Linked DNA regions of Homo sapiens: all the other regions are linked to region 3. The links come from fine-mapping of genetic effects on gene expression. A gene starts in region 3. Each other region holds a variant in brackets. All regions are shown on one strand. Distances are between the middles of the regions. Region 1 overlaps INCR1 (interferon stimulated noncoding RNA 1). Region 2 overlaps RIC1 (RIC1 partner of RAB6A GEF complex). Region 3 holds the start of INCR1 (interferon stimulated noncoding RNA 1).

Evidence for each region. PIP is the estimated chance that this variant, and not a neighbour inherited with it, causes the effect.
Region 1: its variant is fine-mapped to the expression of INCR1 in whole blood (INTERVAL, PIP 0.93).
Region 2: its variant is fine-mapped to the expression of INCR1 in sun-exposed skin (GTEx, PIP 0.97).

Annotation. Positions count from the first base shown.
Region 1 is chr9:5,603,424-5,613,836 of GRCh38, forward strand. All of the region lies in intron 1 of INCR1 (interferon stimulated noncoding RNA 1), which reads right to left. Among named protein-coding and RNA genes, the nearest start is that of RIC1, 20 kb to the right of the region's middle. RefSeq lists an enhancer at 5,601-5,650. The variant T/A (reference allele first, on the strand shown) is at 5,670.
Region 2 is chr9:5,738,766-5,749,178 of GRCh38, forward strand. RIC1 (RIC1 partner of RAB6A GEF complex) reads left to right here. Exons shown (of 26, transcript NM_020829.4): 9 at 4,104-4,248; 10 at 4,924-4,972; 11 at 7,166-7,318; 12 at 8,537-8,740. Among named protein-coding and RNA genes, the nearest start is that of ERMP1, 89 kb to the right of the region's middle. The variant G/A (reference allele first, on the strand shown) is at 3,830.
Region 3 is chr9:5,624,656-5,635,068 of GRCh38, forward strand. INCR1 (interferon stimulated noncoding RNA 1) reads right to left here and starts at 5,072. Exons shown (of 3, transcript XR_007061406.1): 1 at 4,912-5,072. RIC1 (RIC1 partner of RAB6A GEF complex) reads left to right here and starts at 4,452. Exons shown (of 26, transcript NM_020829.4): 1 at 4,452-4,798. The coding sequence starts at 4,655. RefSeq lists enhancers at 2,642-2,861, 4,772-5,272 and a silencer at 4,212-4,751.

The DNA.
Region 1 (10,413 bases), 21 kb before region 3:
AGAGAGAAAAATGGAAAAAGAAAACAAACTTACAAACAAAAGCCCAACCCCAATCAACTGAGTAGAGAGCAATAAAGGAAAAGGGGGAAAGCCAAATAAAAGTTGGACAAATAAAAATTAAAAGTGTGGTGGTAGAAAATGTCTAGATATATTAATAATTATAATAAATATAAATCTAAACTTTATAGTAAAAGACAGATTGGGGAACAAACAAACAAAAAACCTCTAACTACATGCTCTTTCAAAAGAAAAACCTAAAACTTAAGACACAAAATGGTTGAAAGATGTAGCAGGAAAACAGTAACCAAAAAAACAGAAGTGTATATTAAAAATCACACAAAATAGACTGATGAAAATAGGTATCGTTAGAGTTAGAGAGGGACCACTACTTGATTTTTATAAACGTTCCAATTGTCAGTGATATAATAACTTCAAAGTTTTACACCTAGAAAAATTGTTTCAAATATATAAAGCAAATATTTACTGAACTACAAAGAGAAATTGCCAATGAGAGCTTTCAATATATCTCTCTCAATTACCAACAGACCACCCAAAGCAAAGATATTAAAAATATGGAAGATCTGAACAACACAATTAATAACAATCAAATAGATAAAAATTCTGCATCCAACAGTTGGCAAATGCACTTATTTTTCTTAAATATCATAGTGCAATTACAAAAATTGTCCATTTATTAGACCATATGGCAAGTCTCACAAAATTATAACACAGTCCTCATTCTCTGTGCGCAAAGTAATTAAGTTAGAGGCAATAACAAAAGATAAATCTATAAAAGTTCTTATATATTGAAAAATGTGGAAACACACTTGTAGGTAATTCATGTGTCAAAGAAAAAATTATGGAAGAAATGTAAAAATCCTAAAAGCCGAATGATAATGAAAATATCACCTACCATGTTCTGTAAAACAGTCAAAGTCATTCTCTAAGGACAATTTATTAATTTGAAAGCTTGTTTCAGACAAGAAGAAAGGTTAAAAATTAATGAGCTTTGTGTTCAACTCAAGAAATTAGGAGGAAAAATAGAAAAACAATCAAAGTAGGAGGAAATAGATAACAGAGATAAAAACAGAGGTTCAGAAAAAAGTAAACAAAGCTACAAAAAAAGAATCCACAAAATTAAAAGTTTTATTTTATAAACAGAACAATCTCTGCTGAGATTGAGCGAGGAAAAAAAAAGAAGGCACAAATAAGCAATATTAGAATAAAAAGGGACCTAATCACAGACAAGGCAAAGATTTTTTTAGATGAGCTACTCTGAATCAATTTAGGCCACATATTCAAAAACTTAGGTGAAATGGGCAAATTCCTAGAAAACTATAATTTACCAAAACTTACTCAAAAACAGAGAACCTGAATTGTTTTGTATCTACCAAAGAAATGCAATCAATATTTTTAAATCTTCCCACAAAGAAAATATTTAGTTCAGATATGTTTACAAATTACTTACACCTAGGTTTCAAGAACGAGATCATTCCAATCTTTAAAAATGTCCTATAAAACAGAAAAAGAGGGACTATGACACAATTCACTCAATGATATTAACGTAACCTTGATAGCAAAACCAAAGAAGGACAGGACAATAAAGAAACCTTTTGAACCAATCTCACTCATAAACATAGCTACAAATTCAAATTAAATACTAATGAAACAAGCTTAGGAGTTTATTTCAAATAGATAATACATCATAAACAAGTTGAGTTTAACCAGAAATGCAAGCGCAGTTAAACATTAGGAAATAAAAAATATGGCTAGGCATGGTGGCTCACACCTGTAGCCCCAGTGCCTTGAGAGGCCAAGGTGGGTGAATTACTTGAGCCCAAGAGTTAGAGACCAACCGGGGCAACATGGTAAAACCCCGTCTCTACCAAAAAAAATACAAAAATTAGCCAGGCTTGGTAGCACATGCCTGTAGTCCCAGCTACTTGGGAGGCTGAGGTGAGAGAATCACTTGAGCCTGGAAGTGAAGGTTACAGTGAGCCAAGATGGCACCACTGCCCTCCAGCCTGGGCAACAGAGCAAGACCCTGTCTCAAAATAATAATAATAATAATAATAAAGAAAAGAAAATATAAAAATATAATTCATTGGCCAGGCACAGTGGCTCATGCCTGAAATCCCAGCACTTTGGGAGGCCAAGGCAGGTAAATCACCTGAGGTCAGGAGTTTGAGACCAGCCTGACCAACATGGTGAAACCCTTTCTCTGCTAAAAATACAAAAATTAGCCAGGTGTGGTGGCACACACCTGTAATCCCAGCTACTCGGGAGGCTGAGGCACGAGAATCGCTTGAATCCAGGAGGCAGAGTTTGCAGCGAGCTGAGATCGCACCATTGCACTCCAGCCTAGGCAGCAAGAGTGAAACACCATCTCAAAAACCAAACAAACAAACAAACAAACAAAAATATATATATATATGTAAAATTTACCGCATTAACAGACTACAGGGGAAAAATATGATAATCTCAAAAGATGCAGCAGATAATGAGCAGACTTATTAAAATCAGGAACAAGACTTAGAAGTCCTATTTACTTCTACTCAACATTATAGTGGATTTTCTAAGTGCATTAAGACAAGAAAAAGCAGCAACAAGTACAAAGATTGGGAACAGCAATAAAAGGTAGGAGTATTGGAATATACTTCATTCATAAGGATATAATTCTCTAAACAGAAAGTCCCACAAAATCTACAGGCAAATTCTTGGTAATAATAACAGAGCTGGCCAGGTGTGTGGCTCACGCCTGTAATCCCAGCACTTTGGGAGGTCGAGGAGGGCAGATCACCTGAAGTCAGGAGTTCCAGACCAACCTGATCAACATGGAGAAACCCCATCTCTACTAAAAATACAAAATTAGCCAGGCGTGGCAGCACTCGCCTGTAATTCTAGCTACTCAGGAGGCTGAGACAGAAGAATCGCTTGAACCCGGGAGGCAGGGGTTGCGGTGAGCCAAGATCATGCCATTGCACTTCCAGCCTGAGCAACAAGAGCAAAACTCTGTCTCAAAAATAAATAATAATTTAACAATAACAGAGCTAACCAACATGGCTGAATAGAAGACCAATACGCACAACCAAATATATTTCTAAGCATTGGCAACAAACAGAAAATTTAAAAAGTATAAAAGCAGTTTACCATATGATATGGTTTGGCTATGTCCCCACCCAAATCTCATCTTGAACTGTAACTCCCATCATTTCCACATGTCTTGGGAGGGACTCGGTGGGAGGTAATTGAATCACGGGGTTGGGTCTTTTCTGTGCTGTTCTTATGAGAGTAAATATCACGAGATCTGATGGTTTTATAAGGGGGAATTCCTCTACACAAGCTTTCCTTACCTGCTGCCATGTAAGACATGACTTTGCTCCTCCTTTGCCTTCTGCCATGATTGTGAGGCCTCCCGAGCCACGTGGAACTGTGAGTCTATGAAACCTCTTGTTCTTTATCAATTACCCAGTCTCTGGTATGTCTTTATTAGCAGCATAAAAGACTAATACACCATAACAACAAAAAAGTATAAATTACATCTAATGAAGTTATAGGAGACCTATATGGAATAAATTCTAAAACTCTATTTGATAAACATCAGAGAAGATCTACTATAGAAATAAATAAAAGACGACATTCAAAACGAAGACTTTCTATTGTGAAGTTACCAGTTTTTCCCAATTTGACCTACAGATTCAGTGTAATTTGATGCCAAATCACACTTTTTTTCCCAAGAAACTAAGAAGCTGATTCTAAAATTCCTATGGATGAACAAAGGTCAAAAATATAACAAAGACTCTTTTGGAGAAGAACAAGGTAGGAGGTATGCTTTATCCTGTTTGAGGACTTTGATTACAAAGTTAATTAAGAGAGTGGTATTAACGCTGCAATACACAAATGGGTTAATGGTATAGTAGAGACTTGGGAAACAGAGCCACACATATTTGGACATCATATATAACAGAGGTGGTATTGTATATAATCAAGAAAGGGAGAATTAGTCAATAAGTGGTGCTGGGAGAATATGGGGAAAAATGAAACTGGATTCCTACCCAACATGATACGTAAGTCAATTCTAGATGCATGCAAGACTTGGATGTGAAAGCTGATATTTTAAACATCTATAGGATAATATCTTTAGTTTCCTGGGGTAAAGAAAACACATACAAAACAAAAACAGGCTTGTCTGAAACTGAGAACACAAAACACCCCAAAAAACTTATCTAAAACTGAAGAGATTAACAAATTTGACTTTCTATTTTTCAAAATACTCCAAACAAGAATTTGTAGACAAGCGACAAGCCAGTAGTAGATATTTGCTATATATAACTAGTGGTACGCCCATACATGTTTTAAAAACCTAGCTTTGCAGAGATGAAAAAAGCCATGATTTGTTGGGTTTGATTCTTTTCAAGGTGGAAAAGTTTATTTCAAGCCACCAACATGATGTTGCTAAACATGAAGTTAGGAAGACATACACAAAATCTCTCAGACGAGTCTACACAAGCCAGCTCCAGTACACCACTGCATATAACACTAAAGGATTTGTTTCCAGAATGCATGAAGAACTCTTTCTATTTATCAATAATTAAATGACAAACAATGCCACAAAAAAGGGAGGCATGAATAGTCATTTTGCAAAAGAGGAAATATGAATGAAGAAAAAATACATGAAAAGATTCTCTACTTCACAGTGATCATATAAATGTAAATTAAGATTATAATGAGTAAACATATTATACTCTCCTGATGAACTAAAGTTAAGTATTACTGCTGGGTGCAGTGGTGGATGTCTGTAGTCCCAGTTACTTAGGAGGCTGAAGTAGGAGAATCACTTGAGCCCAGGAGTTTGACTCTAACCTGAGCAACATAGTGAGACCCTGTCTCTAAAAAACATTTAAAAAGAAATATTACTATATTAATTTTTCCCAAAGACAGATCAACGGGAACTCTTAAACAATGCTGGTGTGAACATAAATTGGCACAACCACCCTGGAATAGGATTTGGCATTATCTTACAAAGTTAAGTACTGTACATTCTACAATCCAGCAATATGTAAGCTCAGGTATATATTGTAGAGGAATGCTTGCACAAGTGCACCAGAAAATATGAACATGAATATGCACAGTAGCACTTTTTGTTAAAAACATAACAACCCAAATGTAATCAGTCAAGGTTTGTTCATAGAAGTAGAACTACTAAGATAAATTGACAAAACGGATTTAGAGACTTGACTGTATGCAATTGTGGAAGCTGGTTATACTCTCTAGGGGAGGCTGTTGTTTCTGTGTCTAGTGCTGGAGCTGAAGTTCACAGGACCAGTGGTCAGGAGGTAGAGAGCAGGAAGCGAGGACAAACTGGAATCCATGAGGATGGACTGGAATCTGCATTGGTCTCTCACCACCTCCAAACCTCTGGTGGAGGAGGAGTTAAACACACCTCTGACCCAAGAGTTAGAGAAGCTGAAGCATAAGATCCACAGGAGCTGGAGGAGCTATGGACCCTGCACCTACCTCCTGAGTGTTAGGAAATACAGCTAATTTCTTCACTTTCACTTTCCACATCAGGCAGAAAATGTCTCTCCAGGTTCATCTAGTCTATTTTCATATGAGAAGTTTAAGAGGCCCAGAGAAGTGAAGTGACTTGTTACCTAGAAGCCTGTTTT[T/A]AAAAAAAAAAAAAGTCTTATGCATCTGAAACTCTTCGTAAGAGAGTGCACGTCAGTATTTTTGATCTAGGTACAGGCTGTCCGAGGGATATTCTTGACTCATGTTCTTTTGCCAGTTGCCTCTGATTATATCACATAAGAGGGCTTAGGCAGCTTTGCAATAATAGTTCTACTAATTATTCTCCAAAGGAAATTCCTCATTCCACTGCAAATAGATGTGATCTTAAGACTGATTTCCCCCAGAATCACTACAATATACTCTTATCTAAATTTGAGCACAGCATCTAAATATTCATTTTATTTAAATGTGAATTGCTGCATTCGAGCTAAGGCCGAGTTCTCCATACGAGATCCAAATTTGGTACCAATTTGGTAACCATAATCCATGGTTACTCTGTGACTACTAATCTGGGGGAAAAAGAAAACACTCTTTGGCAGAAGAGGATAAGTACATTCCTAATTTTCATTTCCAGATTCTTAGCCACTCATCCAGGATGAATGTTAAAACCATTATCAAAACATAGCCTTAGAAATAAAATTGTTAGGGAGATAATAATAACTCTTTGTCAATGAATTTATTTTGAGCAATAATAATACAACAAAGTTCCAGTACTGCGAAAAAGTTTGGCTAATCTCAAGAACATTATAGCATATGCAACTTGAAGTAATTTCTTTATCTAAAAATATTGGGCCAAAAGAAACTAATTAGAGTTTAATGTAATTTTATATTAAGTGTCTTGCTGTGGTTTTAAGATTTTCAGTAATATACTTTATTTTAAATCATCTCAGTGATTTAAAAGAGTAACACTTTTAAATGATAAAAAAATTTTAATCATTTATCATTTTAAATGATAAAAATAAATTTTGAGTGGGAAACCCTTTTCATAAAGAAAAAAGAAAAAAAGAAATTTTTATCATTTTTAGTTTCACAAAATAACAAATTGGAAGGTAATAATGTAAATTTGTAAGCTTTTCGCTGCAAAAAACTGTCATAAAAATCTTTAGATGGTGTGTTTCATTACTGACTTTAAAATAAAATTTAATATAAAAATATAATTCATAGCTAACTTTTTCTGAAATGTGTTTCTTTTTTTACAAAGTGAGATGTATCAGTACTTCTTTCGTTTCTATGCAATAATATTGTCACTCTCCCTTTTCTTTTTTATTAACTGATTTGGACTCTATTTCTAAGATAGCGTATAACAAAATGCCCCCAAAACCCACAACTCACAATTTTATGGATACTCTACCTATTGGGATATATTCCAATATGGTTATCATGTAGAAACCTCAAAAGAGAAAGGCTAACTTCCTCCTGTAAAGGAGTGATCATTACCACCACCAATCAATTGAACAAAGCCACTTCCACACAGTCAATAAGCTGCTTTGACTTTTTCTTGTTCTCACTTTTCTGGGTCTAGACTTGGGGAGTTAAAGTGTTAAGGTCTATGTACTTTGGCCATGGGTAACTGCCACAAATTGGGTTCTCAGTGAAGCACAGTCTGGACAGAGATTGGGGTGAAGGAATTTTATTAGGGAGTGTTCTTGGGATCAAACCAGTCCACTGCCTGGTCTTAGGACAATAGTAAAGAGGGGAATAGCGCCCTCCCCCACAGGCCAAGGGAAGACAAAATTAGCAGGATGTAAGATCTAGCTATTCTTCCCCATGTGGAGATTCTCCTTCCAGTGAACTTTGGAGAACCGTTTATTTTTATTAAGAAAGGCAACATTTTTTGACATGTACAAAGCACTTTCCTATATTTTTATTTTTTAATTTTTGATTTCCATAGGTTTTTGGGGAACAGGTGGTGTCTGGTTACATGAGTAAGTTCTTTAGTGGTGATTTGTGAGACTTTGGTGCATCCATCTCCTGAGCAGTATACGCTGAACCCAATTTGTAGTCTTTTATCTCTCACCCCCTTCCCACTCTTCCTCTGAGTCCCCAAAGTCCATTGTGTCATTCTTACGCCTTTGCATCCCCATAGCTTATCTCCCACTTATGAGTGAGAACATATGATGTTTGGTTTTCCAAGGGAAGGCAATATTTTTATTAGGGGTCTATAAATATTAGTGGCTGTTTTTTAAAATTTGGTATTTCAACTGTAGTCTTCATGATCAGTGATTTAGAAAAATACCATATTGTACTGAAATAAATTTGCTATATATTTATTTCAGATTCTATATTAAAAATTGAAAAATTAGTGTTTTCTGCTGTTTGGAAAATACAGTAAATTTTCTTCTCTAAGTTTTCTTTTGCTAGAGTTTTTATGTGATGTCACGGGCCTCTCCATGCCCTTTGCATTCTCTTCCAAAAATCTGTTCTTGCTGTCAGTTAAGTGGAAATGGTTAGCAACGAAGCAAAATCAAAGTGGACCCACCCAGCTTTTATATCCTGCATGGCTGAGCTTTAATGAAAGTTTGAGTTTTTCCAAAAGTCTGGTCTCTACTGACTGGGAATGAAAAACATTTGGAAAAAAATGCCTTGAGCATGTGAACCATGTAATTTCATTTGAACTAAGGAATTCCAAAAATACTTTGCTTATTGGAAGGGCAGTTATATTGCTGCATTAGAACTTGATATTGAGAAGGATAAGTACTAGTTCTTTTCTCCCTTTTTCTCATAAACATTAAAAAACTTAGACTGAGTGGCTGGGTAGGAAAATAGTGTAAAGAGGCTAAGTTGGACCACCAGGTGGGCTTGCTCTAGAACCTATTCCTTCCTTAGGAGATCCATCTACTCTTCCGGGTTCCATAGAGCCCCACGCAGCTTGAAGCAACCCACTCTGCACTGATGACAATGCAGGGCTTCATCTGGCCATATCTTGATGACTACTTGAACTGAGGCCCAGTCCTTTAGTCAGTTCTGCTCACCGACACCAGTGTAAATGCTATGCCAGTAGCAAAACTGGAATTGCTGGGTCCCTGCTGGGCAATCTGGCCAGAGAACAAAGTAGGTCCTGTTCAGTTTTATGTCTCCATGAGGGGATCAGGTGTTAATATTATTAACTAGCATTTTTGGGAATATGTACTATGTGCTAGTCACAATACTGGATACTTTTACATGGATTACATTATTCAATCTCCGTAACAATCCTCTATGGAATTTTGAAGCTTAGAAAGGTTAAGAAATCAGGTTTTGAAACCAATCAGTCTGACTCCAAAGCCTTTGATCTTCTTTCCTATTTTGTAATCCCTGGCTTTTAATCATGGGTCTTAGTGTACTAGATTGGGATCACAGATAGCAGTGTGGCAGATACAGTTGGTGCCCTGCCCATGTCTCCTGAGCCTTACCAAGTGCCAGCAGCTGGACCATCTTGCTTAATGGCCTTCTCTGGTGGCTGGAGCTCCATATGTGAGCATAGGTTTGAGGAGATGTAATGCCTTAAGTGCAGCCTTTAACTAATGATTGATAGGAGTTGGGGTATGAATACTTCAGCTCCTTTGCTACTCTGGTAGAGTAACTCAGAGGCATGAATTTTACACTGGTACCCAAAATTCTCCAGAGGGATTAAGTCCATTACCCACAGTACTAACCCACTTGAAAACATGCCCTTTTTATTGATTGCCTTCCCTCTTTGTCTCACTTCCCTTGCCCATATTTCCTGAGATCACTACCCAAGTAAGCTACTTGTGTACATATTAATGCCTTAGGATCTGGCTTCTGGGGGAACCAAAACTAAGACAAAGAGCAAAGAAACGGTGGACCTATGAAGAAGGAGGACCCAGTTGGAGTGGATGGGGCAATGCTGGAAGGAAAGCATGGGGTTGCAGTCTCTAGGAAGAAGCCTCTGATGATGGTTTCCTGTTCTTGAAGCTGACAGTGTCATTGTGAGACAGGAGACAAAGGTTTTGGGGGATTATTGAATATTGACACACTGGATGGTTCTTTGATTGCTTGATTGAATGGAATTTCTTTCAGAAGTTCTCTCTTGGTCTGTTCTTTTCAAATGTATTCTATATTTACCCAAGTTTAATAAGAAGAGATTCCAGAAAATGCAACCATTAATAACTGGAATAATGAAAGAAAATGCTAACACGTTAAAAACAGAACATTGAGTAAATGGTCATAAGTAAATGAAAGACAAATGTATATATATAATTTTGGAGGATGTATAATTTACTCATATGGCCTGAATGTGGTAATACTATGTATCATATTTCATGCAAACATAAACTGAATGAGGCTTTTTTTTTTTTTAAGACAAAGTCTCCCTCTGTCACTTAGGCTGGAGTGCAGTGGGGTGATCTCGGCTCACTGCAACCTCCGTCTCCCAGGTTCAAGCAATTCTCCTGCCTCAGCCTCCCAGGTAGCTGGGACTACAGGCGCGCACCACCATGCCTGGCTATTTTTTGTATTTTTAGTAGAGACGGGGTTTCACCATATTGGCCAGGCTGGTCTCAAACTCTTGACCTCGTGATCCACCCACCTCGACCTCCCAAAATGCTGAGATTACAGGCATGAGCCACTGCGCCCGGTCAATGAGGCTCTTTTATACCACTTTTACTACACTTATAGGATCATTTCTCAACTTGTGACTCTATCATCTTTACTGATTAACTGGACATCCAGTGGTGCCCAAATTTTCAGGGAATAACATGGGCATGGGCAAAATCTTGCCTTGTTAAGGTTAATGGTATTGTAAATTGTTAACTATTGCATTTAGGTCGGGCATGGTGGCTCACCCCTGTAATCCCAGCACTTTTGAGTGGCCGAGGCAGGCAGATCACTTGAGGCCAGGAGCTT
Region 2 (10,413 bases), 110 kb after region 3:
GTATAAATTAAGTGGGAATGCAGTAGGCTTCCTATCAGTTTCACTTCCAGGAACACCATAATTAATTAGCCAATGCCCAAGTTCTACACAAGTCAGACTATTCTGATTGCTGCTTTGCTTCTGCTGTCCATTACAGTAGCTACGCCCACCTTACCTTTGATAGTTGAGTGCCGTCACTTGGCCCCTGCTACCTCCGGATCCAGTTATTCCCATTTTGTATTTAAATTTTGTAGTTGAGTGACTGAGGTTCCCACTGTTAGATCTGACATACAGAGAAGTGCAATTATAGGGTTCTTCAAAGATGTAGCTGCTGCCCTTGTAAATCTGTTTTGCAAGGCATCAGTCAAGGGTATATCTTCTGGACCCTCCCAGCTGGGATGAGTAGGTCTAAAGTGACTAATCCACTCCACCTTCTGAATCTCCCTAAGCCTTTGGATCCCTTCCTCTACATTAAACCAAGGGAGATCAGGCATTTCCAGCTCACTCACAGTGGGCCATCTTTTAATCCATATTTCAGCTAACCACGCAAATCAACTATTAGAACCTTTTTTAACTCCCCGAGCTGCAGCTTTAAATGCAGAATCCCTACTTAGTGGGCCCAAATCAATAAATTCAGCCTGATCCAACTCTGTGTACCTTCCATCATTATCCCACACCCTTAATATCCATTCCCATGCCTACTCTCCAGATTTCTATTTATGTAAATTAGAAAACTCAAGCAGTTCCCATAGTGCACCTCCTCATGGGTCATACTCTCAACCTCACCTCTAGAGGCCTGCCAGGACTTTATTGATAGGTCTAGAAGCAAACAGAGGTGTTGGGAGTGGCTCCTGAGGAGAATCAACATTATCTTGCCTGGCGACTGCCTCAGGGGAGGGCATCACTGTTGCCTCAGGCAGCACAGGGTTTATAATCCTCAGACAAAGGTGGAAGGGCTAATGGCAGCATGGGTCCAGGAGGGGATGTTGCCACTATTGGGGATGGGGAAAGCTGTTTCTTCTGGCAAAAAAAAAGGTTCACCAGAGTTTACAAACTCAGTGAATCTAGCTTCATCAGGGTCCTCCCACACATCCCCTTTCCAAGTTGCAGGGTCCCATTTTTTTCCAATCAGTGCCTTCACTTTAACAGTAGACACCTGGTGAGGCTGTGCATGCACCTTTTGTTGCAGATCAGCCACTCAAATGATAAGAGTTTGTCTCTGTGTTTCCACAATTTTAGCTCTTTCTCTATAGGAGATAAGACCCTCACTCAGGGCAATCTTAGCAGTTTTGAGGCTCAGTATCTGCTTCTGGGAGATGGAATCCCTGAGTTCATCATTTTCTTTCATCACCTTGTTCACTGAACTTAGGAGCAACCAACTAGCTTCATTATGTTCCTTGATTCTCCACATATGGTCAAAGGTGTTATGTATAGAGTCACTAAACTCCTTGCGTCTCACAAGCAATGAATCAGGAGTGCCAAATGCATTTATTTTGCATAACTCTATATAAACAGTTCACGTCAAGGACTGTCAGTGCGTACTATTAGAAATAGAGTCCTTAGCATTTTGGGGTCTAATGATATTAGGCAGCCAACTCTAGAAACCCCAAAACCAATGAAGGAACTCCATCCTTAATATTCTGTACCTCTAGAATCACTCCTGGTACCAATATCTGTATTAGTAAGGTTCTCTAGGGGACAGAACTAATAGAATAGATACATACATATTTATAAAGGGGAGTTTATTAAGTATTAATAAATGATCACATGATCACAAGGTCCCACAATAGGCCATCTGCAGGCTGAGGAGGAAGGAGAGCCAGTCCGAGTTCCAAAACTGAAGAACTTGGAGTCTGATGTTTGAGGGCAGGAAGCATCCAGCACACGAGATGTAGGCTGGGGGGCTAGGCCCGTCTCTATTTTCACATTTTTCTGCCTGCTTATATTCTAGCCGCACTGGCAGCTGATTAGATTGTGCCCACCCAGATTAAGGGTGGGTCTGCCTTTCCCAGCCCACTGACTCAAATGTTAATCTCCTTTGGCAGCACCCTCACAGACACACCCGGGATTAATACTTTGTATCCTTCAATTCAGTCAAGTTGACACTCAGTGTTAACCATCACAATTAGGATATTTAACTATTCATGTTGACTTAGTGTTACCCACATTTATACCAGTATTTTTGCCCACCATATCTTTGACCAACTCATACCTTCTTCTTGAGACCATTTTCTGCCTGAAAAACCTCCCATACATCCCTTGGAATTTCTTTTAATGAAGTTTTTTGAAGGTAAACTCTACTTTGGGAGAGTCTGAAATGTACTTATTTTGCTGCTGTGATTTAATTATAGTTTAACTTGGTGTGCTGTTTTGGATTGGCAGTTATTTTCTTTTTATACATTGAAGAATTTGTTCCAGTGCCATTGGATTTCCATTGCAGCTATTGAGAGGTCCTCTGTCAAGTTGTCTTCTCTTTTCAATAGATTGGTCTTTATAGCTACCTTTCAGATCTTGTCTTTGTTTTTGGCTTTCTGCAGTTCAACTGTGATGTGGAAGGGAAGAATTTTGTTTGTTTTTCAAATCCTGCTTGAGACTTAGGCTTGCTGGATGAAGATTTACATCTTTGAACTATTTCTGGAAAATTCTCAACCAGTATTTCTAAATATTCCTCTCCCCTAATCTATTTTCTGGAACTCAGATATACATTACACTTTTTTCCATGTTTCTTAACCTAACTTTAAATTTTTTAAAATTTTGTTTCTCTAGACTGCATTCTAGAAATTTTTTCTCCATCTAGGTTTGCTGATCCTCTCCAGTTATGCCTAATAATGTTGTTTGATCTGTCCATCAAGTTCTTAATTTCAGTTATTGTATTTTTTATTATTTAAAGGCTTATTTAGCTCTTTTTCCAATCTGTATGCATCCTGCTCCTTGTTTGAGTCTTCTCCTTTATTTTCATTGGCTATAAAAAGCAGTTATTTTATATTCTGTGTCTGTTAATCCCAAAATCTGAAGCCTTTCTGAGTCTGTTTCTGCCATGTCTTGATTCTTTGTGTTCTTGCTCGTTTGTGTGTGTATTTTAGGATTTTTGACTGAGAGCCGATTGTTTTCCTTGAAGCATATTTTTTGTGTGTGTAGCGCTTTGAGAACTGGATAACATTTGAGTTTTTCCAGAGAGGATTTAAATTTCTTTGCTTCCGCTGGTCACTTGGGAGCACTACATCAGTCTGTGACCCTTTGCATTGTATTCTCTGTTTGAACCACATTAAATTGCACAAATTACAAATCAGAGTGAGGGTTTGTGGCTTCAGATTATCAAGGGAGTATTATTTTCCATTCACTTCCACTGATGAAACATGAAAGTGTTCCTTGCTAATTCTTTTCCTACATGGCAGAGGCTTTTTTCTCATTCTCTCTTATACCATGGATATAGTCCATTGTAGTCCCAGCTTTACATGGGTATCTTTTGTTAGATTACCTGTCTTGGGCAAGCTCTGAGCTTTATCTCCTGTTCCTAACATGCTGTGAGTCATCAGAGGTAGAAGTAAAGGTCTCCAGGGTTTGGCAGAAAAATTCAGGGAACAAGCACTTTGTCTCAGTATTTTTTATTGTTTTGAGGATTTAAGTATTCTATTCACCATCTTAGTTTTTTCAGTGTGGAAGTCATTCAGGGTGTCATTTGCTGTACTTCCAGAAATAGAAATTTGCTCCTTACGTTTTTTTAATCATTCTTACTGTGTAGCTTTTTTTAAGGCCTGCATATGTTTTTTTCTAAAGACAGCTTTTACTGTAACCTTATCCTTGTTTTACAGAAACTGATTTATACAAAGCCAAAGACTTTTAAGATTAC[G/A]CAGTTATAAGTTAATCAAGCTAATAGTGACTAGAAACAGCTTTCACTTCTTACAAATCACCTGTGCACTGAGTTTGTTCTGCTTAGATCAGGACAAAACTAATGGCCTTACTAACTTTAAGTAGTCCTAAATGACCAGGATTTATTTTTGGAAGCAGTCATACCTTTCTACTCATTTAGATTTGAAAATACAGATTGTATTTGAAAAAAAAAAAAAAACAAGTATTTCTGAAGCAACTATTTATTTTTAACTCTTCTCACTATTTCCTAACAGACATTTGGAATAAAACAGGAGCTGTTAAATTGATGAGATGGTCTCCTGACAATAGTGTTGTAATAGTGACCTGGGAATACGGAGGCCTTTCTTTATGGAGTGTTTTTGGAGCACAGCTGATTTGTACACTTGGAGGAGATTTTGCGTAAGTCAAAAAAGACAATTTTTAGATAAAATAACTCCATTATTTCTCACAATGCATGCATACAAAAACCTTGTGTCAGAACTTCCCTTTTTGCCTTGACTCTTACCTTAAAACAATTTGCAAAGTTCATAATCTGTTCGAATATACTGATTCTCTGAACATTCATTTTTTAAAAAATGTACATCTCATTCCACAAAAATGTATTTATTTATTGAACCCCTGCTGTATATATGACAGCATGTTAGACACAAAGCAGAATCAGGCATGGTTCTGCTTTTAGGTAGTTTATAATCTAATGAGGGTGGTAAGGCATGTACATAAATAGTAGAAAGTTACGTTATCTCATTAGGTTAATGTAGGTTAGCCCAGTGATTGATAGGAGTAGGTTGGTATCTCTGCCCACTTCATATACTACCCTGAACCTCAGTTCTGATGAAATGAGCACACCTTTAAAAGCTGCATATCTCTGGCAAGAAGTCACTTGGACCTCGGAAAATGTGGCTGAGAGATATATACACCTAGGTGTATTAACCCACAGTTTTGTATTTCATGCATTATTATGTATTTCTATTTTAAAGGAGCAAAATCCGTTTGATTTTTTAAAAAACACTAAATTTTATGTGTATTATATGTAATTGGAAGGCTGTATTATATTTAGTTTCTGTTCTGTTTCAGTTATAGGTCTGATGGCACCAAAAAAGATCCCCTTAAGATCAACTCTATGGTAAGTACTTTCTATAAAAAATTGGCATGGTATTAAAAAAACTTGGATTTTTCTTCCCTTTTTTCACTCATTTTTATTTATTTAATTTTTTGAGACAGGGTCTTACACTGTCACCCAGGTTGGAGAGCAGTGGCAGATCATAGCTCACTGCAGCCTCTCTAAGCGATCCTCCTGCCTCAAGCTTCCAAGTAGCTGAGACTCTAGGCACACCACTATCCACACACGGTTAATTTTTTTGATTTTTAGTAGAGACGTGGTCTTGCCATGTTGCCCAGGCTGGCCCCCTTTTTTCACTCATGTTGATCTGATAAAATCACAAAACTATTTTAGTCTCAGCAGACTCTTCATTATACAGTTCTTGCTTGATGAAAGTCTTTTGTTTTTTTTTAATTGGAAGGCTGCCTGGTTTTCAGTATTTGCATTTTGTTTAGATGTGGCCAGCAAACCCCTGTCATCTTTATGATGATAATGACTGTTCAGATGAGGCCTTTTTTGTATGTGTCTTCTCATGGCCTGCTTGCTTTTAACATGAGGTGAAATGCTCATTGGGCATTTTTCCTGGAGGACATGCACTTGTGCATTACTTGAGGATATCTGTATCTATATATCTATATATATGTATACAGTACCTTGAGCATATTTTTTAAAATTTACATAGATGTATGTCAAAGAGAATTATGGTCACTGTTGTAAACAATACAGGTTGAGTACCCCTTAACCAAAGTGCTTGGAACCAGAAGTATTTCAGATTTTGGAACTTTTTGGATTTTGGAATATTTGCAAATACATTCTTGGGGATGGGACTCAAGTCTAAACACAGAATTCCCTTATGTTTTATATATACCTTATGCACATAGACTGAAGCTAATGTAATGAATTTGTAATAATTTTGTACATAAAACAAAATTTTGACTGCAGCTCATCACATGAAGTCAGGTGTGGGATTTTTTTACTGTGGTGTCATATCAGCCCTCAAAAAGTTGCAGCTATTGGAGCATTTCAGATTTTTGGATTAGGGAGGCTTAACCTGTATTTTTATTTTTTACCTATTTTCAAGAGTTTCTGTAGAAAACAGAGATATAAAACCCCTGTCTTTACATAACAAGTTTTTCTTGCTATAGCCCCTCTGCATACCATCCTTTTTAAATTAGTGACTATGAGGCTTGTCGCTTCTCTTCTCTCTTGCTCCACAGAGGAAGACATTCTTCTGATCTTGAGTTTCTTGTAGAATTAAAACCGCCATGGTTGCCTAAAATAGTGGTTCCCAAACTTTCACCACCAAGGACCCCTTCTGATGTCTTTGCCCACCTCCATAGTTTAAAATAAGTTTTCACCACACATTTCTATAAATACCAATCAGTGCTTCTGAATGGCATGCAAGAACCAGTGTTGTCCGTCTCACTAAGTTGATATTTTAACCACAAACTAAGAATCTAAGCATTATTAGTTAAAACTTAGGCAGCTTTATCATAGGAAAACATAAAAGTTCTATTAAACTTTTGAAATTTTGCAACAATTCATGGGCTACCCCTGCCCCTTCACCATTTTCTTGGCTTGAAGATTGAGAATCACTAATCTTTAAAAATACTATCATGGAGTCTAGTTACAGAATATTAAAACTGAATGGTTCTGGAGGAATTTATTTGAACCTTCTCATTTTACAGAGGAAGAAACTTATATCCCGAGAAACGAGACAGCTTGGCCAAGGTAATATATACAAAAAGCCAAGCTATAATGAAGACTCTAGTCTCACAGCTTCCAATCCAATGTTTTTTGCTCCATACAAAACTGCATCTGTTGTAGGGGCTTCTTTGCCAGGCTTCTACTGGGTAACCTGGGGTGTCTTCTGTAAGGAATTTCTTTGTATTTGAGAGGCAGCTAAATTAAAGCAATAGAGAAGTTACAGAGCACAGTAGGTATTTTTAGGATTAAGACCCTGAAATTGGCATTAAGAATGGTAGGTAATGTTTTCACTTTTGCAGATAGAGAGCAGTGATGGTGATTTCCTCTGGAGTTAGTTAAGAGGTAACTGAAGGTGTGATTCTTGTCTGTGTTATCACGGTTTCTCCAACCTTCACAAATCATTAATAATGCTATCATTGGCTATTTCAGAATTTGAATAATTGAAGCTAGAAAGGGATACAAAAGCCTTTTATTGCTCTGACTTTTTTTCTCCCTCCTCTTCTCTCTAAGAGCTGGGGTGCAGAAGGCTATCACCTATGGGTAATCAGCGGATTTGGTTCTCAAAACACTGAAATTGAGTCTGACCTCAGGAGTGTAGTTAAACAGCCCAGCATCCTGTTATTTCAGTTTATTAAGAGTGTACTCACTGTAAACCCTTGTATGGTAAGTATATTTAAAGCTCTGATTTTTTAGTGTCTTTTGTGTTAGAAGCTCAGACCCTTCTTTATGACATATGTATGGCGTATACTTCTAAAATTGGCATATTATCTTCTTTTCTATGATTCTTGTGTTTCTTTTTAATTTATATTAAATTTATACCAAAATTTTATTTCTCAACGGGTTGTGTTTCTTTGGTCTTATTTTTTTAAAAGGGTCATAAGCAATTTGACGGAAAGCAATGTTTATATATTTATTTAAATAATTTGAGTAATTTAGTCTTTATCTGAATAGCATTTCCCAAAGTGTGTTCCTCCAGGCACTACTTATGAGAGATATTAGTAGCAGTTCCACAGGATTTTTTAAAAGTTTTGTTTCCATATAAGTGTCAAATAAAGGTAAAACAAAATTGTAGAGATTGATTGTAGGGCTCCAGAGGCTTAAATATGCCATTGTGCATCATGAAAATCCAGGAGGTGGTATATTAAAAACAGTGTTCCCCATGCTTATTTAACTGTGAATTTTTAAGAAATAGCTTAAAGAAAGTATGTCTGAGGACTTGCTTTTAGAAACACCGCCCCAAACACTGCCTCTTGTATTTCTATCTGAAATAGTGTATACTAATATTATTATATATCGCTAATATACAGTAATGGTATATGTTACATGTTAGAAATGTGTATCTTAATACCTACCATCAATGGCTTTTTAATGGATATTTGGTACAACAAATTTCTAATTAAAATTTACGAACATCCATAAAAAATGTGAAAATAGCCTGAATTTCAGATCCATTATTCCACTTGAAGACTAAGGATCCCCAGAAAAGAAGAGAGCATTTCTCCCTCCCCTTCCCCATCCCAAATAATAATTTAAAAGCACCCTTGAGTTTTATGTCAAGCCAGCATTTGGACTAAAATGGAAAAATGACAAGGGTAGGGTGCTACTTTGTCTGATTTCAATAGTTAATGAGTCTACTCACCTTTGAGAACACTGGCTTTCTAGCTGAAATCTCATAGTCACTAAGAGCACTATTCTTTCTAATTATAACAGTGCATGAGATTATTGTGTAGTCTTTGTCCTCTGTGAAGAAAATCAACATCGAGATACATGTACATTTCCTATAATAAAACTAAATCGATGTGTTATTTTTGCCTGCGTAATATTGAGTTGTTTTTATTTGTTTTCCTCCTTTGCCCTTTTGTTCCTCTTTCCCTCATTTAGAGTAACCAAGAGCAGGTGTTGCTTCAGGGTGAGGATCGCTTGTACTTGAACTGTGGAGAGGCTTCACAAACCCAGAATCCCAGGAGTTCTTCAACACACTCTGAGCATAAGCCCAGTCGAGAAAAGAGCCCATTTGCAGATGGAGGTTTAGAGTCTCAGGGATTAAGCACTTTACTTGGACATCGGCATTGGCATGTTGTACAGGTAAATCTTTAGTTACTGATTACTAGAGACTTATTCTTTGATAGGATATCACCTGGAACAGATTATTAAATATTTCATCTGTTAACTTCAGGCAACTGAGAATCCTTTTAACCATTTTGTCATGTCCCTCTTCTGCTTTTCTGTGTTCTTGTCCTCTAGTCTTCTCCCTCCTTTCTTTCCACTTGGCGTAGAGTGTATCCCCACCTGTTTCAAGTCTATTAATAATGTCAAGAACTAGAAGTTTATGTTTTGCCTTCTCATTGAGAACTATTTATTTTACTTTCAGCCTCTTTTTTTGTATAAATTTAGCTCTACGGATTTGCACAGGCAAAACAAAGTGTAATAATCTCATGGAAAGTGGCAACATCAGCTAGTACTCTGTACAGCTGACCTTACAGTCTTAAGGGGCCACGTTGAGGTTAATCATGTGACTTTGGACCCAAATTGCAGACTTGTGATCAGTAGAGAGCTTTATTGTTAATACTTTTATTAGCTAATCTTATTCCAAATTATTTATTCATTCTGATATCACTTTTAAATTAACAGTGTCTCACAGTAATTCTGATAAACTGACATTTAACATGGAAATTAATTCTCAATTTTGATACCAAGTAAAATTATTTTGGGGAAACCAGTAAGTTGAAGTTTCTTAAAAGAAACTTGCATACATAATTTCAGTCTTCCGACTGTTTTCTTTCCCTTTTTGATAGCAAAATATTTTAGGTACATCAAAGCCCACTCTTAGTTTCTTTTAGTCAGTTTCTGTTTCCATAATTCTTTGCCTTACTTTGACTCTCTATATGTTTACCCTACTAGCCTACTTCAGCTCCCATGTTATTTTCAGTTGACTTTGAGTGAAGATAATGAGAGACAAAAAAATGGTCATGTGAAAGGTTGAAGGATTATCTCCTACATTGACATCTGGTATACACTAAAAGAAAATGAACTTAACTTACATTAATAAATTCATAGAATCAAACAATGTACATACCATTTTATAATTAGTAACAATTTTTAAATAAAACTGCACTAGCTACTTCCTTGACTAAAATTTTCCACTGCTCCCTTCTCTCCTATAGCCATTTCTCTGCTATTTTCATTTCCCCATACTTTGAACTATTCATTCTACACTGACCTAGCATCAATGCCAGTTCTGCCTAGCCAGGTCTGTGTTACCAGAGAGCCAAGTAGAGCAGAGGATCAAAGAAGGTAGGTCTGGAACTAAAAAATCGATCAGGCAATAACAAAAATTGAATTTCCTTCCAGCTCAAAAACTCAGTGATTCTGTGATTCTTAAGCATCTATGAAGTACCCCATATAAGAGAAACATTTTAACACTGATTTTAGGACTTTGGGTACTAGCAAGATTCCACTGTTATTCTGTTCTTTAGATAGCTAAAGATATTTAGACAGATGAACTTTTAAAACTTGAGTTTACCTAGTTTATCAGTTTCCTTAAAAATAACATAAATAATGCCACATTGATTGTTTTGTACTGCTGAAACAATGAAAATGGGCTCATAGAATTTTTCAAGCTGGAAGGACCTAAGAGATCATAAAGTCCAACTGGATTTGATACATGAGGAAACTGAGGATCAGAGAAGTTATATGACTTGTCCAGTTCACCCAGCAGAGTAGTGGCAGACTTATCTTTATCATCACTCTACGTTAAA
Region 3 (10,413 bases):
TCTAGCTTTTTACTTAAAGTGAGAGACGGGGATTCTTTCTTTCACTTGAACACTTAGAGGCTACTGTTGGGTTACTAACAGGCCTAATTTCAATATTGTTGCATCTCAGGGGATAGGGAGGCCCAAAGAAAGGGAGAGAGACAGAGGAACTGCCAGTTGATGGAACAGTCAGAACACACATAACATTTATCGCTTAAGTTCTCCATCTTACATGGATGTGGTACATGACACCCCAAAACAATTACAATAGTTACAACAAAGACCACTGACCACAAATCATCATAACAGATATACTAATAATGAAAAAGTTTCAAATATTGAAAGAATTACCAAAATGTGATAAGAGCCATGAAGTGAGCATATGCTATTAGAAAAAATGGTGCCAATAGACTCACTCAACACAGGGTTACCACAAACCTTATATTAAAAAAAAAAATTGCACCAAATCATACTTCCATCAAGAGAGTATAAATGTATCCCCATTTCTTATGTGTACTCTTACCAACATTATTTCTAGTAATTTAAAAAGTTTATAAGTTTCATAGATGAAAACATGCACCTAGTAACTTTTTTTTTTTTTTTTGAGACAGGATTTCATTCCTTTCACTCAGGTGGGAGTGCAATAGCATGATCTTGGCTCACTATTACCTCTGCCTCCCAGGCTCAAGCAATTCTCCTGCCTTAGCCGCCTAAGGGGCTGGGACCACAGGTGTATGCCACAGTGCCGACTGATTTTTTGTAGAGACAGGGTTTCACCATGTTGCCCAGGCTGGTCTCAAACTCCCGGGCTCAAGTGATCCGCCCACCTCTGCCTCCGAAAGTGCTGGGATTACAGGCGTGATTACCCTGCCCGGCCCCCTACTAACTTTTATCATAAGCTTAATCTTAGAACAGAGTCCAAAAATTTTGACAGGAGTGGTGGTGGAAACTAGTAGAAAAAGGAGGAGAAGACCTAAGGCATGAGAACTGTCAGTATATTTTACAAAATAAAGTTAAAATATGATATTTGAAAGTTGAAGCCAGGCACGGCGGTTCACACCTGTTATCCCAGCACTTTGGGAGGCCGAGGCTGGTGGATCATTTGAGGCTAGGAGTTGGAGACTAGCCTGGCACATGATGAAACCCCATCTCTACTAAAAATACAAAAACTAGACAGGCGTGGTGGTGCATGCCTGTAGTCCCAGCTACTCAGGAGGCTGAGGCACAAGAATCACTTGAACCCGGGAGGCGGAGGTTGCAGTGAGCCAAGATTGCACCACTGCACTCCAGCCTGGGTGACAAAGCAATGCTCTGTCTCAAAAAAAAAAAAAAAAAGAAAGAAAGAAAAAGAAATGATGTTGAAAAATCCAGCCAATAACATTTTTGTCACAATAGGGGAACTCTCAAGTATAGGGTTTTGGAGAGTCAGATATTTCCTTTTCTCCCCGCCAGGGAGAAAGACCTAGAGGTTTCCCCCACTCCCTCTCACTGTCCAGAGCAATTACCACAATTTAGTTCAGCCTAAAGAGCATATGCTGTTGGAAAAACAGCAACAATAGACTTACTTGATGCAGGGATGCCATAAGCCTTAATTTTTTTTTTTTTTTTTGAGACAAAGTCTCACTCTGTTACCCAGCCTGGAGTGCAGTGGAGCGATCTCGGCTCACCGCAACCTCTGCCTCCCAGGTTCAAGCAATTCTCCTGCCTTATCCTCCAGAGTAGCTGGGATGACAGGTGCATATCACCATGCCTGGCTAATTTTTGTATTTTTTTTTTTTTAGCAGAAAGACAGGGTTTCACCATATTGGCCAGGCTGGTCTCAAACTCCCGACCTCATGATCCGCCTGCCTTGGCTTCCCAAAGTTTTGGGATTACAGGCATGAGCCACCGCGCCCAGCCAAACCTTAAATTTTTAAAAAAATCACACAGGAGGCTGGGTGCGGTGGCTCACGCCTGTAATCCCAGCACTTTGGGAGGCCGAGGTGAGCGGATCACCTGAGGTCGGGAGTTCCAGATCAGCCTGACCAACATGGAGAAACCTCGTCTCTACTAAAAATACAAAATTAGCCAGGCATGTTGGTGCATGCCTGTAATCCCAACTACTCCAGAGGCTGAGGCAGGAGAATTGCTTGAACCCAGGAGGTGGAGGCTGCAGTGAGCTGAGATGGCACCATTGCACGCCAGCCTGGGCAACAAGAGCGAAACTCCACCTCAAAAAAAAAAAAAAAGAAAGAAATCACACTGGATCTGTAGAAAGAACATCAGTTCTTTTCAGGCCATGTGAATTCAGGCACATCTACCACACCTGTCCTGTTTCCTCACTTGAGAAAGTGAGAATAACAACATCACACCAATGTCACTCACCTTGAATGTTTACTATGAATTAAATCAAGACAAGCATTTGGAATTATTTTGTGAATCTTAAGTGCTACACAGGAGTGTGGCAGAGGAATAAGCTTCTAAAGTCAGCAAGTAAGGTTAAAATTGAGTGCAATAAAAATTGCTTAGAAGTTCCTTAAATTGCCCATGAGCACAGTATGACAAACTTGAGACACATGAGAACAAAGACTCTCTGAGAGACAGCTGGGACAAACATTCAGTAACACTGCCAGCAAAATTGCTGCACTAGAACATTTTCATTTCCTCTTTCTGCCAAGTGCATAACTGAATCTAAGATGAAAGTATGATGCAACTTTGTTATTCTACAATTTGAAATTGGCAAGTTAAGAAACCTCTCTGGGCCTCTTTGTCTAATGGTGTAGCTCAGCTGGATCAGGGTTTCCTCCACGGTTTGTCTGACAAATACTGCCAGCTTACTATGCTTACTATGTTCCAGGCTGCTGTGTTGGACTGGGGGAGGGTAGACGCCAAGGAGACAATCTGATCGCAACAGGCTGGTGAGTGGTGAGGCAGTTTCAACCTCCATTTGAGGAATACAGGATTCTATCATCACCTTCCAGGGAATGCAGTGAATGTTTAGAAAAATTACAGAAAGTTACATATTTGGTTATGAATACCAGCTACAATGCTATATCTAATATGAATTAAGTTTCTTTGTTTCCTTTTTTCTGTTTATGTTGCTACTTTTTTTTTTTTTTTTGAGACAGTCTCACTCTGTTGCCCAGGCTGGAGTGCAGTGGAGGGATCTTGGTTTGCTGCAACTTCCGCCTCCCAGGTTCAAGCGATTCTCCTGCCTTAGCCTCCTGAGGAACTGGGATTACAGGCACCTGCCACCACGCCCAGCTAATTTTTGTATTTTCAGTAAGACGGGGGTTTCACGATGTTGGCCAGGCTGGTCTCGAACTGCTTACCTAAAGTGATCTGCCCGCCTCGGCCTCCCAAAATGCTGGGATTACAGGCGTGAGCCCCAGCACCCCGCCTACGTTGCTACTTTTTAATGTGGGGTCATTTTTTAAACCTGGCTTTTTAATTGAAAAAGTAATACAAACATATGGAAAAATTCAAACTGTACTAAAAAAGGTAGACAATGAGAAGCAAATCTTTCTTCTATTTCAGACTCCTCCTTCCCCCATTCCACACCATATCCCCTCAACCCTCCTTCTATTCAGACGTTACCACTGGGTCAATCCGTTGAAAGTTACAGCTAAGGTGATACCTGGGGTCCAAAAGCTAAATATGGACCTACGCTATCACCAGTCCCTTCCAGTTCTAAAACTAAGTCCAAGCCTTTTGCAGCACGAAAGAGATAGCCTCCTCTCATCTAAAGTTATGGCTGGTAAGGCTGAGACGAATGGAAATGGATTTCAAAGACATAGATTTAGAACTCCTGAAAGGCAGGAGACAGAACTCAATACTTTCATGGTGAGTGGTTTATTTACTGATTAAATAAACGCTCCCTTAGGGATGTAAGCTCCACACCGGCAGGAGCTTCATCACCAGCTCTCACTGCAGACCCCGGCATTAAAGGAGCTCACACGGTAAAAGCCCCTACCGCCCACCACAGCCACAGCGGCCGGCAGCCCAAAGTGGGAAACCGCGCCGGCCGTCACGTGACTCCAGCTCCCCCCGGCAACCGGCCCGCCCCCACCGAGACCCCGCCAATCCGGAAGGGAGGTCCAATTTGGCCAGGCCAGGGCGTGTTCCACCGGCCCAGTAGCCTTGCTGCTGCGTTATCCCTAGACTCGCCCCACTTGCCTCGGAGTCTCAGGCCGTTGCCTAGGTCCTCCCGGTAAAACCCTGGAGACTGCTAGGGAGAGGAGCAAGGGAGGGGCCAGCGCGCAGAAGTGCGGACGCAACCCGGCGGCCGCGGGCGAGGCTTATGCAGAGCTTCAAGAAACAGCTAGGGAGACCGCAGGAGTCTCCAGAGCGCGCGCGCGGGCCCTCCCCGGCCCGACCCACGCGGCGCGGCGTGGTGACGCCCGCGCGGCCTGAGGAAGGGGCGGGGTCGGGGCGGGCCTCCGCGCTCCTCCCGCCCTCTCTGTGTCCCTACTCTCCCTCCCCTTCCCTCCCCCACACTCGGCCCCGTCAGCTTGGGGGTGCCTTCGTCGCGCAGCCTTGCGTCGGCCCGGCCCGGCCAGGCCAGCGGGCAGATGCCCCGAGCTGCCGCCGCCGCCGCCGCCGACTCGGCCGGTGGCGGTGTGGGAGGTGGGCGACCAGCCCGGGGCCGCTGAGTGTGACGGACGCAACTGGGGGCGCCGGGGGCTCCGCACGGACCATGTATTTTCTGAGCGGCTGGCCCAAGAGGCTGCTGTGCCCTCTGGGGAGCCCGGCCGAGGCGCCTTTCCACGTTCAGTCCGACCCGCAGAGGGCTTTCTTCGCCGTGCTGGCCGCGGCCCGCCTCAGCATCTGGTACAGCCGAGTAAGTAGAGCCGCCCGCCGCCTTTCGCCGCTGCCTCCCCGGCCTCCCGGCGCCGTCCCACCCCCAACTTCCACCCAGAGCCTAGGACTCCTGCCCCTTCGTGCCAGACCCACCTGCCTTCGCAGTCCGCGTCCTCGTTCCACCGAATTGGCCGCAGGTACCCGCCGGCTGCAGGCACGTCCTCCAGCCGGCGGTCCGGGGTGGATGAAGTCGCTGCTGCCGAAAATCCCTGAGCCTCCCCGCGTTGGACCGACGGCCGCGGCGTGCAGACTCCGCACGCTCCCCGGCCGAGCCCAGACTTGTTCTTCTCTCCCTTCCCCCATTCCCCGAGGGACAAATTTGTTTAAACTTTCCACAATTAGAAATCCGGCCGCTGTGGTGCCCCAACCCTCCCTTACTTTAAAGGTCGCCGTTTTGGAGTTAGGGAAAGCCTCTTGGGCTTTACCCAGCGCCAGACTTTACAGGCCTGTAATAACTTATTTCTACAAACTACAGCCTGAATTCTTTATTCTTCACTAAAGGTCTGGTTATTTAACTCCCCTCTTTAACCCCAACATCCCTTCCCCACTTTCGAGTTGGTCTTTTTCTTTGCTGCTGCTCTTGGACTCTTCGGAATAGGGGGTTAAAGGAGCGGAAGTAGAACTCAAATCTGTCCGCGGAACTCCCAGTTATAACACCTGGAAATAATAAGGCTTGGGAGGAGCATGGAACTGAATTCTGTTTTTGCTTTAAGTCCTGGTTATCTTTTTCTTTCTTGTATTGAATTACTGAGTAGATATGAGAAAGAAATAAGTGGTGGATGGGATACTCCCTACTCTCTGCAAACACTGCTATAACTTTGTCTATGAGAACGACAGAGTTCAGAGTATAAAAATGCTTTTTTTCCTCCCCAAAGAAGGCAGTACCAATCGATGTCAGAGTGAAGTTTTTCTCCTTTCCAAGTTAATTTGACCATGTGGGGATAGGTTGTGATCTTGTCCTTATTAGGTGTTCGTGAAATACTGGTTTTAGTTTGTTAAAATCCCCAAATCTTTGTGTGTTGCTGTTCCATTACCTGTAATGCCCTTGACAGTCCTCACCCACTTCCCTGGTAATACTGGTGATGGGATTTAGTGACGGGTAATTCTGGTGTCTCCTTTGACTGTCATAGTTGGGCTGTAAATCAGACTATTTGCCATCAAGTTTTGGCTGATCTAATTTTCAAATGCAAATCAGAACAAAACAAACTTATAAAATCGTAATACCAACAATATGACTATTTTGTCTAGTGCCTGATTGTATTTTGAATATATATGTATGTATGTGTGTGTGTATATATATAAACATATGTGTAAATATATATAAAGTATCATCTGGTTCCTAAATGAGATATTCGTTTACAATGTATATGCCAGTTGAATAATTTTTAATTTGTTTAGGTGTATATAACTCAACTTTAAAGCACATGCAGAAAAAAATAGAACTTGAATTTAAATTGTCTTTTGAATTTAATACATAATTCCTTTTGAATGTAACAAATTTAGACTTTCGTCTAAAATTTAACTTTTCTTACCTTTAAAAAGGCAGACCTAACTTAATTTTAAATAAAAGTAAACAATATGACCTATGAATTGACCAGAAGCCTGTAAACCACTTTATTCCCCCATAAGAGAAGCATAAACATATGCTTTAATTTAGGGACATTGTGAATATTCTTAAGCATGTCTATTGTTTGGTTTTGGAGTTACATACGACATCTAGAAATCCAAGGCAGTTCTGGAATTTAAACTATTCATACTCTTCTTTCAAATTCCCACCTCACATGCAACTTCCTTTTTCCACAGAAGTCCAGGGACCCCTACTATTAAGTTCTGTTGTGCAAAAGTTAGGCTGTAGGGAACCCATGGGTTTAGAGGTCTGGAGTGAAATGAAATGCAGGAATACCTTAGAGGAGGCTGTATAGTACTGTAGTATGAGTGGTTAACCTTGGTCTCTGGGCACCAGCTTTGTTGTCACTGAAAAAAATCAGATATTCACGAGGTCAAGAGATCGAGACCATCCTGGCCAACATGGTGAAATCCCGTCTCTACTAAAAATACAAAAAAATAGCTGGGCGTGGTGGTGCACGCCTATAGCCCCAGCTACTCGGGAGGCTGAGGCAGGAGAATCGCTTGAACCCAAGAGGCAGAGGTTGCAGTGAGCCAAGATCCCACCACTGCACTCCAGCCTGGCGACAGAGCAAGACTCTGTCTCAAAAAAAAAAAAAAAAAAAAATCAAATATTGAACCAAGTGATTATAAGGTGTATGATTACATGCCTAGGTGAGTGGGATACATATGCTAGACTCCAGCTTCCAATCTTCTCTTCCTGGGATATGCCCTTTCTTACTCTGTATGAAAGTTTTCATTTTGATTTTCTAATTTGTAAACTTCCTGAAAGTATGTAAGTTAATTAGGTTAACAAACTTCATTTAAAAGTGAAAATGCCTTTAGGTAAATTAAAGGGCTATCAGTTATACTTCCATAATTTAGAGTGAATTGGTTTAAAAAGTTCTCATGGAGCTGCTAAAAGCTTTGATTTTTGAGAGGCTGTAGATACAAGTAGTTTTATAATAATATGTGAAGATCTACAGGATTTTACAGAGTTGAAGTCTTACAGCTGCTTGAGGGCATTTGAAGGCAGGGAGACATGCTCGTAGAGATGATAAAACAAGATTTGCTTACCTGAAATTTTGTTAGGGCTCACTTAGTAAATCAGGCTCTCTTAGGAGTGATATATTTTAAAAAGAGACAACTAGCCTTGTGGAAGGGACAGTCGTTTAGTAGTCTAAGCTGGTTGTTTCAATGTTCAAAAGAATTGTGGAAATTGTATGTGTACAGTGATAATTCATAAGACTGAATCTCTATTAAAATCTCTAACTGTACATTATATGGGTCTTCTAATGAACTTTTATGTACTACTTATACCTACTGTCCTCTATTCTAAGTAGGTATTCGGAATTCCACTGTTTAGACTCATATCTCTTCAGAATTATTTCCTACCCCAAATTTGAGAAATACAGTATAGTGTTGTTTATGAACAAAAGAGCCTCTAGATAGTTACTTAGCTTTTTTATATTGGAGCCCCAATATTATATTTTGGAGCCCCCCAAATGGTGTTAAAAAAAGGCTCAGTATGTGTAGGCTAGATTGGGGTGGTAGAGGTAGAACTTGACTGGGGGCAGTTGGTACATTTCTGCTAAGGTTATTGTAAAAGGACTAGTTTCAGCTTTGAGGATGAAACTGTTGCATAAGGTAGGTTATGATTTATGATTGACGTAGGTGTAGTGTGAGATGAATTACATTTTGTACTGTACTGAGGGCCCAGAATTATTCCTTTAATATACTAACTGTGACTATGAAAGTCTATATATGTGAACATCAGAATGGTATCTTTGAATTTAGCCATTCTAAATTAGATGTATAGACATTCTCGTTTTTCAGGTCACCGACTTTAAACATTTAAATTAGCTTCAGAAGTATTTTTGAACATCAACTGTAAAAGACAGATGTGTATAAAAGGGATGAAGAGACATGTTATATGTTAGTGTGTTAGATGTTAGTGTGTTAATATAAATCTTGTGAGATATCACTGTTGTAGGTAGCTAATAAAAAGCTGAAATGGGCAAATAATTACTAGGCTTATAAAATAAATTATATGTCGTTTAGTAATCCTGAGCAAAAACTTAGTTCCCATTGGTATGTGCTAATCATGGAAAAAAACAATGATATGTCAAAAGAACCAAGCTTTGGATCAGGTATGTGATTAACTGTGTTGACCTCAGGAAGACCATTTTATTTGTATTTTCCCAGCATTCCCATTTCTCACCCTTTTAACTCTATTACTTTCTCCAGAGAGCCTTCTTTATAAATTCACTGCTCTGAAGTCTTCTAGGGTTCACTGTTGATGAAAGAATGGAGTTCAAACTCCTTAGTTTGATATCACAGACACTCCCTTCTTGGAATGCTCTCTTGCCTCATTTCTGCCTGTCAGAGTATTATCTATCCTTTAACTGCTGTTGAAATCCTTTCTTTATGAGTCATTCTTTACCTACCGTAACCATAAGTGTTCATTTTTCTGATGAACTACTGCTTCCCCACTACTGCCAGCTTTGTTGAGGTATAATTGACAAATAAAAATTGTATATATTTAAGGTGTGCTGTGCGATACTTAGATCTACCCTGTGAGTTGATAATCACAATCAGTCTAATTAACAGATCCACCATCTCACACAGCTCCCTCTTTTTTTGTATGTGGGATGAGAACACTTAAGACCTACTCTCTTAGCAAATTTCAAGTATACAATATATGTTAATTATGGAAATAAATGTCATTATTAACGATAGTTACTGGGCCATGCATTAGGTCCCCAGAACGTATTCATCTTATACCTGAAAATTTGTACCTTTGACTGAAATACTCCCATTTCACCCACCTCCCAGCCCCTGGTAATCATCGTTCTATTCTCTGTTCCTATGAATTTGACGTCTTTATATTCCATATATGAGATCATGAAGTTGTTTTTTGTCTTGCTTACTTAGTATACTGTCCTTAAGTTTTGTCCATGTTGTTGCAGATGGCAGGATTTCCTTGTTTTTTAAAGGCTGAATAATATTTTATGTGTGTATGTGTGTGTGTTACATTTTCTTTATCCATTCATCTATTGACAGACACTTAGGTTGTTTCTGTATCTTGGCTACTTTGAATAATGCTGCAATGAATATGAAAGTGCAGATATCTCTTTGAGATACTGATTTCAATTCCTTTGGATATATACCTAGAAGTAGGATTGTTGGATCATGTGGTAGTCCTGTTTTTAGTTTGAGGAACTTCTGTTTTCCATCATGACTGTACCATTTTGCAGTCCCGTCAATAGTGTACAGGGAGGGGATCCCTTTTCTCCACGTCTTTGCCGACCTTGTTATGATTTAACTTCTTGATAATAGATATCCTAACAGGTGTGAGGTATCTTATGGTTTTGATTTGCATCTCCCTGATGATTAGTGTATTGAGCACCTATTGGCCATTGGCTGTTTTTTGGTAAAACATCTGTTCAGATCTCTTGTCCATTTTTAAATTAGGTTATCTGTTTTGTTTTTTTCTCGGTACTGAGTTGTATGAGTTCCTTACATATCTTGAATATTAGCCCCCTTTTAGATGTATGGTTTGCAGATATTTTCTCCTATTCCATAGGTTGCTTTTTTATCTTGTTGATTGTTTTCTTTACTGTACAATAACTTAATTTCATGTAATCCTACTTGTTTATTTTTGCTTTTGTCACCTGTGCTTTCCATGTCATCCAAAATACCATCGTGAAAACAGATGTCAGGGTGTTTTTCCCCTGTTTTCTTCTAGGATTTGCATGGTTTCAGGTTTTACATTTAAGTCTTTGATCCTTCTTCTTATTTTAATTTTTGTGGGTACATAGTAGATCTGTGTATTTGTGGGGTATATGGGATATTTTGATACAGGACTATAGTCACCCTGTTGTACTATCAAATACTAGATTTTATTCATCATCATCACCATTATTATTTTGAGACAGGGTCTCACTCTGTCACTCTGGAGTACAGAGTCATGATCATGGCTTACTGCAG